3 separate regions of the Homo sapiens genome follow, and all the other regions are reported to be linked to region 3. The links are microRNA targets in miRTarBase. Many come from high-throughput screens and were not tested one by one. Region 3 holds a microRNA gene; each other region holds the end of a gene's coding sequence.
Evidence for each region. The annotated mature microRNA hsa-miR-6766-5p reads CGGGUGGGAGCAGAUCUUAUUGAG and lies in region 3 at 2,717-2,740, shown strand. An mRNA with a match to its seed (bases 2 to 7 or 8) in the 3' UTR can be bound and repressed. Matches are read on the target gene's strand: a 7mer-m8 pairs with bases 2 to 8, a 7mer-A1 pairs with bases 2 to 7 and ends in A, and an 8mer does both.

Region 1: the mRNA of CHST12 is a reported target of hsa-miR-6766-5p. Seed matches in the 3' UTR shown: 7mer-m8 at 591-597 and 7mer-A1 at 3,329-3,335.
Region 2: the mRNA of DNLZ is a reported target of hsa-miR-6766-5p. Seed matches in the 3' UTR shown: 8mer at 1,253-1,260, 7mer-A1 at 2,205-2,211 and 7mer-m8 at 2,650-2,656.

What each region holds. Positions count from the first base shown.
Region 1 is chr7:2,433,519-2,437,518 of GRCh38, forward strand. CHST12 (carbohydrate sulfotransferase 12) reads left to right here. Exons shown (of 2, transcript NM_018641.5): 2 at 1-4,000. The coding sequence ends at 366. Among named protein-coding and RNA genes, the nearest start is that of CHST12, 32 kb to the left of the region's middle. RefSeq lists an enhancer at 1-401.
Region 2 is chr9:136,358,282-136,362,281 of GRCh38, reverse strand. It overlaps DNLZ (DNL-type zinc finger), which reads left to right. Exons shown (of 3, transcript NM_001080849.3): 3 at 102-2,799. The coding sequence ends at 270. GPSM1 (G protein signaling modulator 1) reads right to left here. Exons shown (of 14, transcript NM_001145638.3): 14 at 2,681-4,000. Among named protein-coding and RNA genes, the nearest start is that of DNLZ, 3.5 kb to the left of the region's middle.
Region 3 is chr15:89,325,522-89,329,521 of GRCh38, reverse strand. It overlaps MIR6766 (microRNA 6766), which reads left to right and starts at 2,712; the gene lies at 2,712-2,783. POLG (DNA polymerase gamma, catalytic subunit) reads left to right here. Exons shown (of 23, transcript NM_002693.3): 4 at 412-579; 5 at 691-837; 6 at 987-1,066; 7 at 2,173-2,355; 8 at 2,459-2,610; 9 at 2,784-2,910; 10 at 3,836-4,000.

The sequences.
Region 1 (4,000 bases), not on the chromosome of region 3:
GCTGGCCTCAAGGTGTCCTTCGCCAACTTCATCCAGTACCTGCTGGACCCGCACACGGAGAAGCTGGCGCCCTTCAACGAGCACTGGCGGCAGGTGTACCGCCTCTGCCACCCGTGCCAGATCGACTACGACTTCGTGGGGAAGCTGGAGACTCTGGACGAGGACGCCGCGCAGCTGCTGCAGCTACTCCAGGTGGACCGGCAGCTCCGCTTCCCCCCGAGCTACCGGAACAGGACCGCCAGCAGCTGGGAGGAGGACTGGTTCGCCAAGATCCCCCTGGCCTGGAGGCAGCAGCTGTATAAACTCTACGAGGCCGACTTTGTTCTCTTCGGCTACCCCAAGCCCGAAAACCTCCTCCGAGACTGAAAGCTTTCGCGTTGCTTTTTCTCGCGTGCCTGGAACCTGACGCACGCGCACTCCAGTTTTTTTATGACCTACGATTTTGCAATCTGGGCTTCTTGTTCACTCCACTGCCTCTATCCATTGAGTACTGTATCGATATTGTTTTTTAAGATTAATATATTTCAGGTATTTAATACGAAATGTGGAAGGGAATGCTGGAGTAAAATATCCCCTCTCCCCTCCGCCCGCCCACCCGCCCGCCCGCTCGCCCGCTCGCCCGCTCCTGTGGTTTTTCTGAGCGTGCGGGCGCCGGGAGGGGATGCTGAGGCTGATGGAGCTGCCTCCAGGGCTAGGGCCACTCACCGGAGGAGGGCGGGGCCTGCACTTGAAGTCAGGCCGCACCTGTCTGTTTTTGGAAGGGTAGCCGACAAATCCTTCCAGAGGGAAAGTTCTTTGTTTAAGTGTTGTACTTGAAAAGGTCAATCTTCAGGGCTTCCTGTTTGAAGTCAAGTCAGAGGTAAACCGGTCAGTTACAGAAGCAGGATTTCTAGGATTTCTAACTCCAGCTGTTCCCATACTGTCTAGTTTAAATTATGGCTGTTAAGGCCGGGCGGGTGACTCAGGCAGGTAATCCCAGAACTTTGGGAGGCCCAGACAGAAGGATCGCTTGAGGTCAGGAATTTGAGACCTGGCCAACATGGTGAAACCCTGTCTCTACTAAAAAAAAAAAAAAAAAAAAAAAAAAAAAAAAAAAAATGAGTCGGGTGTGGTGGTGTGCACCTGTAGTCCCAGCTACTCAGGAGTTCTGAGATGGAAAGATTGCTTGAACCCAGGAGGCAGAGGCTGCAGTGAGCTGAGATCGCGACATTGCACTCTAGCCTGGGTGACAGAGTGAGATTCCATCTCAAAATAAATAAATAAATATTAATACATTATGGCTATTAAGGCTGGGCACGGTGGCTCATGCCTGCAATCCTGGCACTTTGGGAGGCTGAGGGGGGAAGATCACTTGAGCCCAGGAGTTCAAGACCAGCTTGGGCAACATAGCAAGGACCTCATCTCTACAAAAAATAAAAAGGACGTGGTGGTGCACATCTGTAAACCCAGCTACTCAGGAGGCTGAGGAGGGAGGATCACTTGAGCCCAGGAGTTCAAGATCAGTTTGGACCACATAGCGAGACCCTGTGTCTACAAAAAATAAGAAAATCAGCCGGACATGATGGTGCACACCTGTAATCCCAGCTACTCGGGAGGCTGAGGCAGGAGGATCGCTGGAGCCCAGGAGTTCAAGGCTGCAGTGACCTATGATCGTGCCACTGCACTCCAGCCTGGGCAGCAAAGTGAGACTCTGTTTCTAAATAGACAGATAGAAGATAGGTAGATAGATAGATTAAATAGAAAGTAAACTATGGCTGTTGAGGTTTACAGTTGGCAGGAGTGGAGTGGTTTGGCGTTTATCTCTAGACCGTGCTGGATGACAGTACCCAGTGTCACCAAGAAGAGGCTCCGTGTGACTGTCTCTGTGGCTTTCTGGTTGGTTTAGCTCCAGTGCCTTCACCCTCAAGGACACGACTGACCTTGAACCCTCAGGTTTGATGGGCCCTGTCTTGATAAAAGTGTCAGAGGAGGCTCTGGAAACATCTGGCTGAAACTCCTTTGCTATTTCTGCTTCTAAGCTGTAGTTGGAGAGATGGTTGCAATCATTTCGTGGTGTCGGGCACCCTGCTTGACCTGTCTTCCTCGTGTGTGGTATTTGTCACCACTGCCCAGTCCCTGGTTGCTGGCCACGCTCAGTTGGGACATACCCTGGTGTCCTCTGTGTGTGGTGTCCCTGTGTTTCCCAGGCTCAGGTGGGCTTGTGTGGGTCTTGGCCCCCAGTGCCTGCTAGCCTCAGGTGTCCCCTGTGTTAGACACCTCCTGCCTTCCTTTCTGAAGCTTCGCTTTCTTTTATTTTTGTTTTGTTTTGTTTTTGGAGACAGGGTCTCGCTCTGTCATCCGGGCTGGAATACACTGGTGCAATCACAGCTCACTGCAGCTTCAACCTCCTGGGCTCAAGTGATCTTCCCATCTCAGACTCCCAAGTAGCTGGGGTTACAGGTGAGCGCCAGCCTGCCCAGCTAGTTTTTTATTTTCAGCAGAGATGAGGTCTCACTGTGTTGCCCAGGCTGCTCTCAAACTCCTGGGCTCAAGTGACCCTCCTGCATCACCCTCCCAAAGTGCTGGGATTACAGGCATGAGCCATCACACCTGGCCCCTCCAAGTTTTTTATTATGATAAAAATGTTTAATTTTAAACGTACCATCTTAACCATTGTTAAGTGCACTGTTGTGTGGCATTAAGCACATTCGTATTGTCGTGCCACCACCACCATCATCTCCAGAGCTTTCTCATCTTCCCAAACTGAAACTCTGTCCCCATTCAGCACTCGCTCCCCATTGGTAGAAGGCAGCAGCTTCCACTCTCTGATTTCTACTACCCGAGCTCCCTCAGAAATGGAGTCACACAGTATTGGTCCTTTTGGGACTGAAGTACTTCACCTCATGCAATGTCCTCTAGGTTCATCGGTGTCGTGGCAGGTGTCAGAACTAACTTCCTTTCTGAGGCGGAATAATGTCCCATTGTGTGGAAGAGGCATGGTTTGTTTATCTGTTCATCAGTTGGTGGACACTGAGTTGCTTCTGCCTTCCTGCGAATGTGAATTGAATGCTGCTGTGAACAGGGTGTCAGTGAATCTGCTGAGGGCTTGTTTTCCGTATTCTGGGCATGGCCCTTTGTGTCTGCCTTTGCTGGAGCACCTCCCCGGGATGCGTTTGTTTATAGGATGTTCAGACGAATGTCAGAACCCACTGGGCGGTTCACTCACTGAGGGGGGCCCGCGTCCCCTCCATTTCTGCATTCCCAGTTCTTGGTATGGTTCCTCTGAGGTTCGGTTTTCCTGAGCACCTGGGGTGTTTGCAGGGATGTGGAGGGGTTCCTGCAGAAGACACCACCCACATCCACGCACCTGCTCAGATTCCCGGGCCATGGTCGGGGCCACCGCCCGTGGGGATGACTCCGGATGGGAGTGGCAGAAAAGGGCCTGCTGGGCCGAGGGGAGGCGTCTCCGGGAAGAGAGGGAGGTGTGAGCGGGGAGAACCCACTTTGATTCTTCGCTGTTTGCCTGATGCGCAGCACCACACTGCGTAGAGACCTTTGGCTCTGGTTTTTTCTTTTTCCACTGAAACACAGCAAATTATACATTTTATGAAAATTGGCATCGTACAACTGGAAAATTTAACCATAAACTTAAAACTCTTTTACCCTGTTGGCCCCCATCCTCCAGCTGTGTCCACACTTTGAGCACAGTCATGAGAATGACTTGGTTGGGTGCGGGGTGGTGTCACAAAGCCCTGTCTCTTGTGTGATGGCTGCGCCTCGAATCAGTGGGAGGGCACCTCGCCCGTTTACAGTTGGGCAATGCTTGGGCTGGGCGGCCTGGCTGCTCCTGGACTCGCCTCCCAGCGTCTGATGCTGTGTATTTTCCATCTGCCCCAGGAATTTGACACAGGTGTGACTTGCAGGTTGTGTGGGTGATGCCTCCCTCCCTCTTTCCTCTTAAAGCATCTCATGCTTCTTCATTCGCTGATACTTACAACCCCCAGTGGATATTTAGTGGAGT
Region 2 (4,000 bases), not on the chromosome of region 3:
GGTGCTTGCAGCTCTGGCCTGGCCATGGGGCGCCCTGAGGGGACTGAAGTGCAGGGCGGCTGGGGGGCCCTGAAGAGCCATGTTGCCTCCCTGCCCCCCAGAAATATCGAAGAGATCCTGACGGCCAGAGGCGAGCAGGTGCACCGTGTGGCGGGCGAGGGGGCCCTGGAACTGGTTCTGGAGGCTGCAGGGGCCCCCACATCCACTGCAGCTCCGGAAGCGGGTGAGGATGAGGGTCCCCCCAGCCCTGGCAAGACGGAGCCGAGCTGACTCCTGCGCTCCCCGGCACTGTGGGACTTCGGCCTTCCAGAAGGAGGTTTTGGCCCTGGGCCTCTCTGGACGTGGCCTGTTTTCTATCAATAAACAGACATTACTTCCAGATGCTGGGGCCTGTGGCCCTCGTGGCCTTTCTTTTTCTGGAGTTAGAACGATTGCTCTGAATCCCTGGTGCTGCTGGGTGGGACATAGGAGCCGCAGGACCTCTCGCCTCACCACAGTTCCTTCTACACAGAGTCACCCAGCTCTTGCCCACAGAGGCCACAGTCGCGTGGAAAGGGGGCTGGATGTGGCGTCAGAGCCCTTCCTGGCTGTCGCTGCGTGACTTTGAGCAGGTCACCACCCCTGTGAGCCTCAGCCTTCCTCTGCAAGGCCCTTGCCGCCCCCCTGGCCAGCTCTGGCGGCCTCCCTTCCGTGAGCCAGTGCAGACCTGAGCCCTGGTCCTCGGCCGCCGGCCGTCGGCGAAACAGTGAGCAAACCAGGCTGCCTGCTGGCCCAGGCAGGACGAGCAGCTATGGCGTGGCCGTGTGTTAGGAGCTCCAGACCCCTCCCGGGGGAGCCACCTGGGCCTCCTTCCCTCGGTGGACAGCGCTCTGGACGTCCCCAGGGCCCTCCGAGGTGTGTGGGGTTTGTCTCCCAGCCTTGTCTGTGCGCAGGATGTTCCCGTGTTTATGAAAGCGAGCAAACACAGCAGCCTGTTTATTTGCAGAAGCGTTCTGGGCAGCGTAACCTTCAGCATTCATCACCCGCCACACTCCGGCAGGGAAGAGAATGGGGCGAGGTGGGAGGTGGAGGCAGGACTGAGCACGACAGGGACCCAGTGCGGCCCCTCCCAGCGGGACACGGCCAGGACTGCCAGCTCACATCCGGCCCGTGGGAGGCCGGGGCGCGGCGGCATCGTTCCCAGTGTGCTTGTGGCGTGGGCTTTGCCTCGATTACCCCCTGTCCTTCTTTCAGCCAACAACCCTCTATTATTCCCACCCAGAGCCTTCTGTGCCATTTGTGGAAACTGTCCTCTTCTCGGCTGAGCCACCGGCACCCAGGCCTGCTCCTCCATGGAGGCACTGGCTGGGGGTCTCTTGGGGGCTTGGAAGTGCAGTGGGGCTGGGCTTGGCTTGGCTGCCTCACTGCCTCCAGAGGGCCTGGACCAGCATGTGGGGAGGTCCAGGGAGCCGTCTGGACCTGGAAGTGCAGAATTAGAGCAAGGAGAGCCGCTTGGGCCAACCCCTCCTCTTACGGATGGGGAGATGGCGGCTGGTAGTTGGGATGTGGACGTTACCATGTCTTTTCTGTCTGATGCCAGCACCTCTGGGCCCAGGCTGGCCCTGGAGGGAAATCCTTCCCAAGGCTGGCACGTTCCTAGAGAAGACCTATGGCTACCCCCCGCGTGCCAGAAGCATCCCGCCAGCTCCTGCCTGAGGCCCCCTGGACCCTGTCTCCCTCCGCCCTTCCCTCCCCGCAGCCCCAATCCCACAGCCAGGTTTCTGCAAGGGGCTTTGCCATCCTAATCTCCTGCCACTCTACACCCCCCCGCCCCAGGACATCCCTGCCTCCCGGGCACGGTTGCTGGCCTGGGCATCCCTCGTCACAGCGTCTCTCCAAGCAGGTTCCTCGGCCGCACCTTCAGAGGCTGTCCCAGCCAGTAGCGTGGGCGGCACTGCTGCGCTTCCCTGGCTGTGCGCGGTCCTGGGCCCTGCACGGTTACTTGGACCCTGTGTGCGTGTACCACCACACGCAAGCTGGCTGGGACCCTGGACCTGGAGTACACGTTGATTCTGGTTCCCAAGGCCCCTTCTGGGGTGGAGGAGGCAACGGAGTCAACCAGCACAGAGGCTGTGGCTGCCAACATGGCCAGGTGGGCTGTGGCGAGGGGCAGCAGGACTGCCCGGCGCACCTGTGTGTCCCCTGACGGGGGCCCCGTGGGGGTGCCACCCACCACAAGCAGCGCCCAGACAAGCCCCAAGACTGCAGATCTGCCGTCGGCTCCTCCACTGTGGCTCAGTGTCCAGACCCTGAGCCCAGCCGGATCAGACTCCAGGAAAGGACCTCCCTCCCCCGGGTGCTGGGTGGGCGGCAGCAGGCTGGGTCCTCAGGGGGTCGTGGGGCTGACCTGGGGGCTGCTGCTTCTGGGGGCTGGTCCCGGCCACGTGAGTGTCAGCTCAGAGCATGCTCTGTTTCCCTAGGGGCTGGGAGCGTGAGGAGGTAGGGGTGCAGGAATCAGTGGTGACAGCAGGCAGCCACTTCACCCCTCTGTGCCCCAGCTCCCCCGTGGTTAAATGCAGTGGGAACTCCATCTCTCTGAGGTCTCAGAGGGCCCAGACAGTGGGTATCTGTGGACACTTTGCACAGTGCAGCCTCTTACCGGGTTAGGCCCCCACCCGGGACTAAGCCCATACGGACCACACTCACTTGGCCGACTTTATTTTTCAGGAAAAACAGAAAAACAAATGTACCTCTTGGGTTGGAAAGGACCCATTGACAACATGGCACAGACGTGAGCAATAAATACGCACATACATTCAAGTATGCGGGGGGGCGCTACGTCCTGGAGACCCTGTGTTCGGGCACCTGTCCCTGCTCTCGGGTGCGGCCCTGCCCCTCCAGAAGCAGGTCACCTCACCAGGCCCAGATCTGCCTCTCCATCCTAGCCTGAGAGTGGGGCCTAGAGGCACCCTCCTAGATGGAACTGCCAGCCCTGGGGGCTGTGGGGCCATGGTAGGGCCCTTGGCAGTCTTGGGAGGTGCCAAGGCTGGGTCTGGACAGGAGGAGGCAACCTCAGGCCCCTGGGGCCCATCTCAGGCTCCAGCAGGTCCTGCCAGTCCTAGGATCCCGAACTTGGTGCCCTGTGAGCCCCCTCCCCATGGAGAGAGCAGTGATGTCATCTCCCCCAGCTGGTGGGAGGAGGGGGGTTCTCATATGGGGGGTCTGCAGGGTTGAGCTGAGTGAAGCCTCCCCAGCTTCCACTGACCACCCCCCCACTTGGGTGAGGGTCACAGAGCCTGGTGCTACCTCCCACCCTGACTGGGCACTGCTCTTGCTGCCAGTAAGCATCCCTAGGACCAGGCCCTGCCCTTTTTCCTGGCTTGGGGTTTTGGAATGTCGAAGTTCATGCCCAGCCATTCCCTCTGCTTTAGAGATAGGCCCGGCTCCTGTCGAGGCCCCTGCAGGGCCCTGGGACTCGGCGGGGGGCACCTCAGGGCTGCCACTGCAGCCTGGTCTGCCATGCGTGGTCTGGGGGGCCTTCTGTGGTTGCTGACCTCTGGCCGGGGAGTGGGGAGACAGGCTTGGAGGGAGCCCTGCCCCAGGACGAAGCTGGAGGGGTGGAGCATGCCTGTCACACGGCCATCCCAAGACCAGCTCTGGGGGGACAGAACATGGCCCTGTCCTTGGTGGCCCCAAGAGGCGGCTCAGAGACACCTTTGGGGAGGGTGGGGGAGACAGCAGGGTTTCACATTTGGCAGGGCAGGGCAGAACGGGAAGGGCTTGGGGGAGAGGATGCGGGAGTCTGACAGCACCAGGTCGGGGCCGACATGCCGAAGGCCCCGTCCGGCCTGCGGCAGGGGCAGAAGGGAGGAAGCTGAGGGCCATGGGGGCCAGCCCGGGATGGAAGCACGCCCTCCCACCACGGGCAGCTTGGCCTGAGCCTGTCGCCCTGGGTCGGGGAGGCCGTGGGGCTGCATGCCCAGTGCCTGTCCTCGGCAATGGCCTCGGGAGGACGTGGCTG
Region 3 (4,000 bases):
GAGGGTGCTGAGGCTCAGACAGCCTTGTTGACATGCTCAGGGCCACAGAGCTTTTGAGTGGCAGGGTTGGGGCCAGACCAGATAGCCCTGAAGGCTTTATTTTGGCCACTCTGTATCTACGTTGCTCAGAGCTATTGTTGGAAGCTGAGAAGGACTTGCACATTGGGATTGAGCCAGGCCTGCATCTTAAAGGGTGGCTAGGATTTGGGAAGGCAGGCCCCTTACAGGTGATGGGGCAAGCATGAACAAGCATGAGGATTCTGTATTTGGTGTTGAAGGCTGTGTGCTGGGAGGGGAGGCTGTTTGAGGAGCTGAGGTGGGGCTGGAGGTCCACACCACCAAGCAGTGGTGGGCTGGCCCCACAGTTGCAGCCTCCCTCCTTCCCTTCCCTTTTCTCCTCCTCCTCCTCAGGGTTCCCGCATGCGTTTCCTGGACACCATGAGCATGCACATGGCCATCTCAGGGCTAAGCAGCTTCCAGCGCAGTCTGTGGATAGCAGCCAAGCAGGGCAAACACAAGGTCCAGCCCCCCACAAAGCAAGGCCAGAAGTCCCAGAGGAAAGCCAGAAGAGGCCCAGCGGTGAGAGCACACTGCCGGTGGGCAGGAGCATAGTGCTTGGGACCCCCTCTCACCAGCCCGTCTGGCCCGAGGCCAGGCTGATCTGCCATGTCCCTTGCTCTGGTTCCCCAGATCTCATCCTGGGACTGGCTGGACATCAGCAGTGTCAACAGTCTGGCAGAGGTGCACAGACTTTATGTAGGGGGGCCTCCCTTAGAGAAGGAGCCTCGAGAACTGTTTGTGAAGGGCACCATGAAGGACATTCGTGAGAACTTCCAGGTATGGTGCTGGAGGGGGCTCTGGGGACATGGGCTGTGGCACACCCCTAGCTGCACTTGGGGAGATGCAGCTGCCAGGCCTGACCCTGAGAGCTGGTGGTGGTAATGGGATGGCTGCCCACCTTGCGCCTTCCTGTCACCTTGTGCCAGGACCTGATGCAGTACTGTGCCCAGGACGTGTGGGCCACCCATGAGGTTTTCCAGCAGCAGCTACCGCTCTTCTTGGAGAGGTGAGGGGGAGCCCATGTGGGAATCTCTGGGGGTCAGTGTGTTCCTGGTACCCGGGCCCACTGTAATCAGGTGGCGCTGGTTCTATCTCAGGTTGGGGACCTTAGCTTTTCTAGGCTGAAAGAATGGAGCCCTTCTGTTCAGTGGTGTCCATCTGGGCCCTGGACTCTGGATTTGACAGAGGCCCTGAAGGGGAGGGCCATGGAGTTGTGCTTGTGTGTCATGTGCACGGTCCTGGTTTACTGTGCACCTTCTCTAACTAGATCCTTAGCCAAGGGCTTCACATACAGCGTGGTTATGTTTATTAATGAGTCTGTCTTATGAAGTGACCCTTGTATGCTGAAAATTCAGGTATATTTGTACCAAAGATATGGAAAGAAAAAAGAAGGGAGGAAAATTTGGGTGTAACTTTTGACTCCCTCAGAGCTTAACTACTAATAGCTTGCTGTTGGCTAGAAGCTTTACTGATAACATAATACATATTTTTTATGTTATACGTATTATATACTGTATTCTTAAAGTAAGCTAGATAAAAGAAAATGTATTAAGAAAATCATGAGGAGAAAATATGTTTACTATTCATTAGGTGGAAGTGGATCATCATAAAGATATCTATCCTTCACGTTGAGTAGGCTGAGGGCGGGGGTTGGGCTTGCTGTCTCGGGTGGCTAAGGCTGAAGAAAATAAATGTGTAAGTGAACTTGCACGATCCAGACATGTGTTGTTTAAATGTCAGCTGTATTTTACCACCCAAGTTGTGAGGTTCAGGCATGATGTTTTTCATGTATGGGATTATTAGCACAGTGCCTGGCACAGAGTCATTACTCCACGTGTGGCAGCCATTTTCACTTTTGCCATCTATATTTCCCACATTACCCCTGAGGATGGGATGATATTGTTCCCATTTTATAGATGAAAGAACTGAGGCTCCGAGAGATGGGGTTGCTTACCCAGGGATGAGTAACAGTAGAGCTGGGATTTAATGCCGTCTGACTTTTGAGCTGTGCCATGTCAGTGGCTGGGTTGAGGCTTGCTAAACCAGCTCAGGGATTGGGCCAGTCTTGCCTCCTGTGGTCATTTATGGCAGCTCCTGGTGTTTGCCTCCAAGGTGTCCCCACCCAGTGACTCTGGCCGGCATGCTGGAGATGGGTGTCTCCTACCTGCCTGTCAACCAGAACTGGGAGCGTTACCTGGCAGAGGCACAGGGCACTTATGAGGAGCTCCAGCGGGAGATGAAGAAGTCGTTGATGGATCTGGCCAATGATGCCTGCCAGCTGCTCTCAGGAGAGAGGTAGCCAGGCCTTGGGTGGGCAGGATCTAGGCAGGGGACTGGCAGGTGGGCGGCCTAGCCTTCGGCTTAGCCTTAGCCCTGCCCTAGTGGACTGGCTCTGTAGGTACAAAGAAGACCCCTGGCTCTGGGACCTGGAGTGGGACCTGCAAGAATTTAAGCAGAAGAAAGCTAAGAAGGTGAAGAAGGAACCAGCCACAGCCAGCAAGTTGCCCATCGAGGGGGCTGGGGCCCCTGGTGATCCCATGGATCAGGAAGGTGGGGAGCATGGGTGGGAGGTAGGGTAGGGTAGGGGTTGTCTCTGGGAAGGTCCTGTGATTGAGGGGGTCCTTCGAAAGGATTGCTCCAGCCTTCTGGAGATGAGCGGGTGGGAGCAGATCTTATTGAGAGTTCCTTCTCCTGCTCCTGATTGTCTTCCCCCACCCTCACAGACCTCGGCCCCTGCAGTGAGGAGGAGGAGTTTCAACAAGATGTCATGGCCCGCGCCTGCTTGCAGAAGCTGAAGGGGACCACAGAGCTCCTGCCCAAGCGGCCCCAGCACCTTCCTGGACACCCTGGGTGAGCCCTGCCCACCCCCAGCAGTGTATCTAGAGTCTACCCTTGCTCCATTCTCAGGACAGCCCTGGTCTGGGTTCTGGCACAGAGGCATCATGCACATGTATACTTATTGACCTGCTGCCATTCAGTCACACTGTCTTCCAGTCCTATTCTCATTTGCTCACTCTGGACCGGCTCACTGGACTCATTCAGCACAGTGTTGTGAGCACCTGCTGTGCAATGGCCCGTGGCAGCCACCGGGTGTACACACTGGAGCATAGCTCCTCCTTTCCAGTAGTTCTTTTTCCTAGGAGGAGCCAGGCACGTAGACCAGCCAGTGCAGCTAGTGTCCATAGGTAGAGTTCTGACTCTGCCTCGGGAAATAAATCAAGAAGGCTTCCTTGAGAAGGTGCCCCTTCCTTTGAGCCTCATAGGGTGGCAGAGATGAGAAAAAGGGCAGCCAGGGTGAGCAGCAGGGTGCCAGCTTTGCACCTGCAAGACCCTGAGAGCAAGTGTCCTGAGTGCCTTGCTAGTCTCACCCTGGGCTCAACTCTGGTGAACAGCCTGCAAGAGAGCACCCAGAAGGACTGGTGTTTCTCTAGAGGGGTGGGGAGGGCAGATCTGCTCCCTCCTCTGGTCAGTTACCCTGGATGAAATGGAGCTTGGGAAGGAGCCCTGCCCTGGGTCAGGGTATGCTTTTGTGTCCTGGCTTCTGACTAGTCCAGTGGGACTGACTTAGTGTCTTTGCTTTTGAAATATTCTTCTAGAGGATTCCATGGGGGTCCTGGCTAAAGCATCCCAGAGGAGGGGATGGCGGCTGTAGGCTGGGGTCACCAGAAAGCCCCAGGGCTTTGGAGGGTGGGTGGGGACATTGTGAGAGAGAGAACCTTCCCCCCAACAACTGCCCTTACCATCGTGACACTGCTGTCTTCCTGCTGGGACGTAGATGGTACCGGAAGCTCTGCCCCCGGCTAGACGACCCTGCATGGACCCCGGGCCCCAGCCTCCTCAGCCTGCAGATGCGGGTCACACCTAAACTCATGGCACTTACCTGGGATGGCTTCCCTCTGCACTACTCAGAGCGTCATGGCTGGGGCTACTTGGTGCCTGG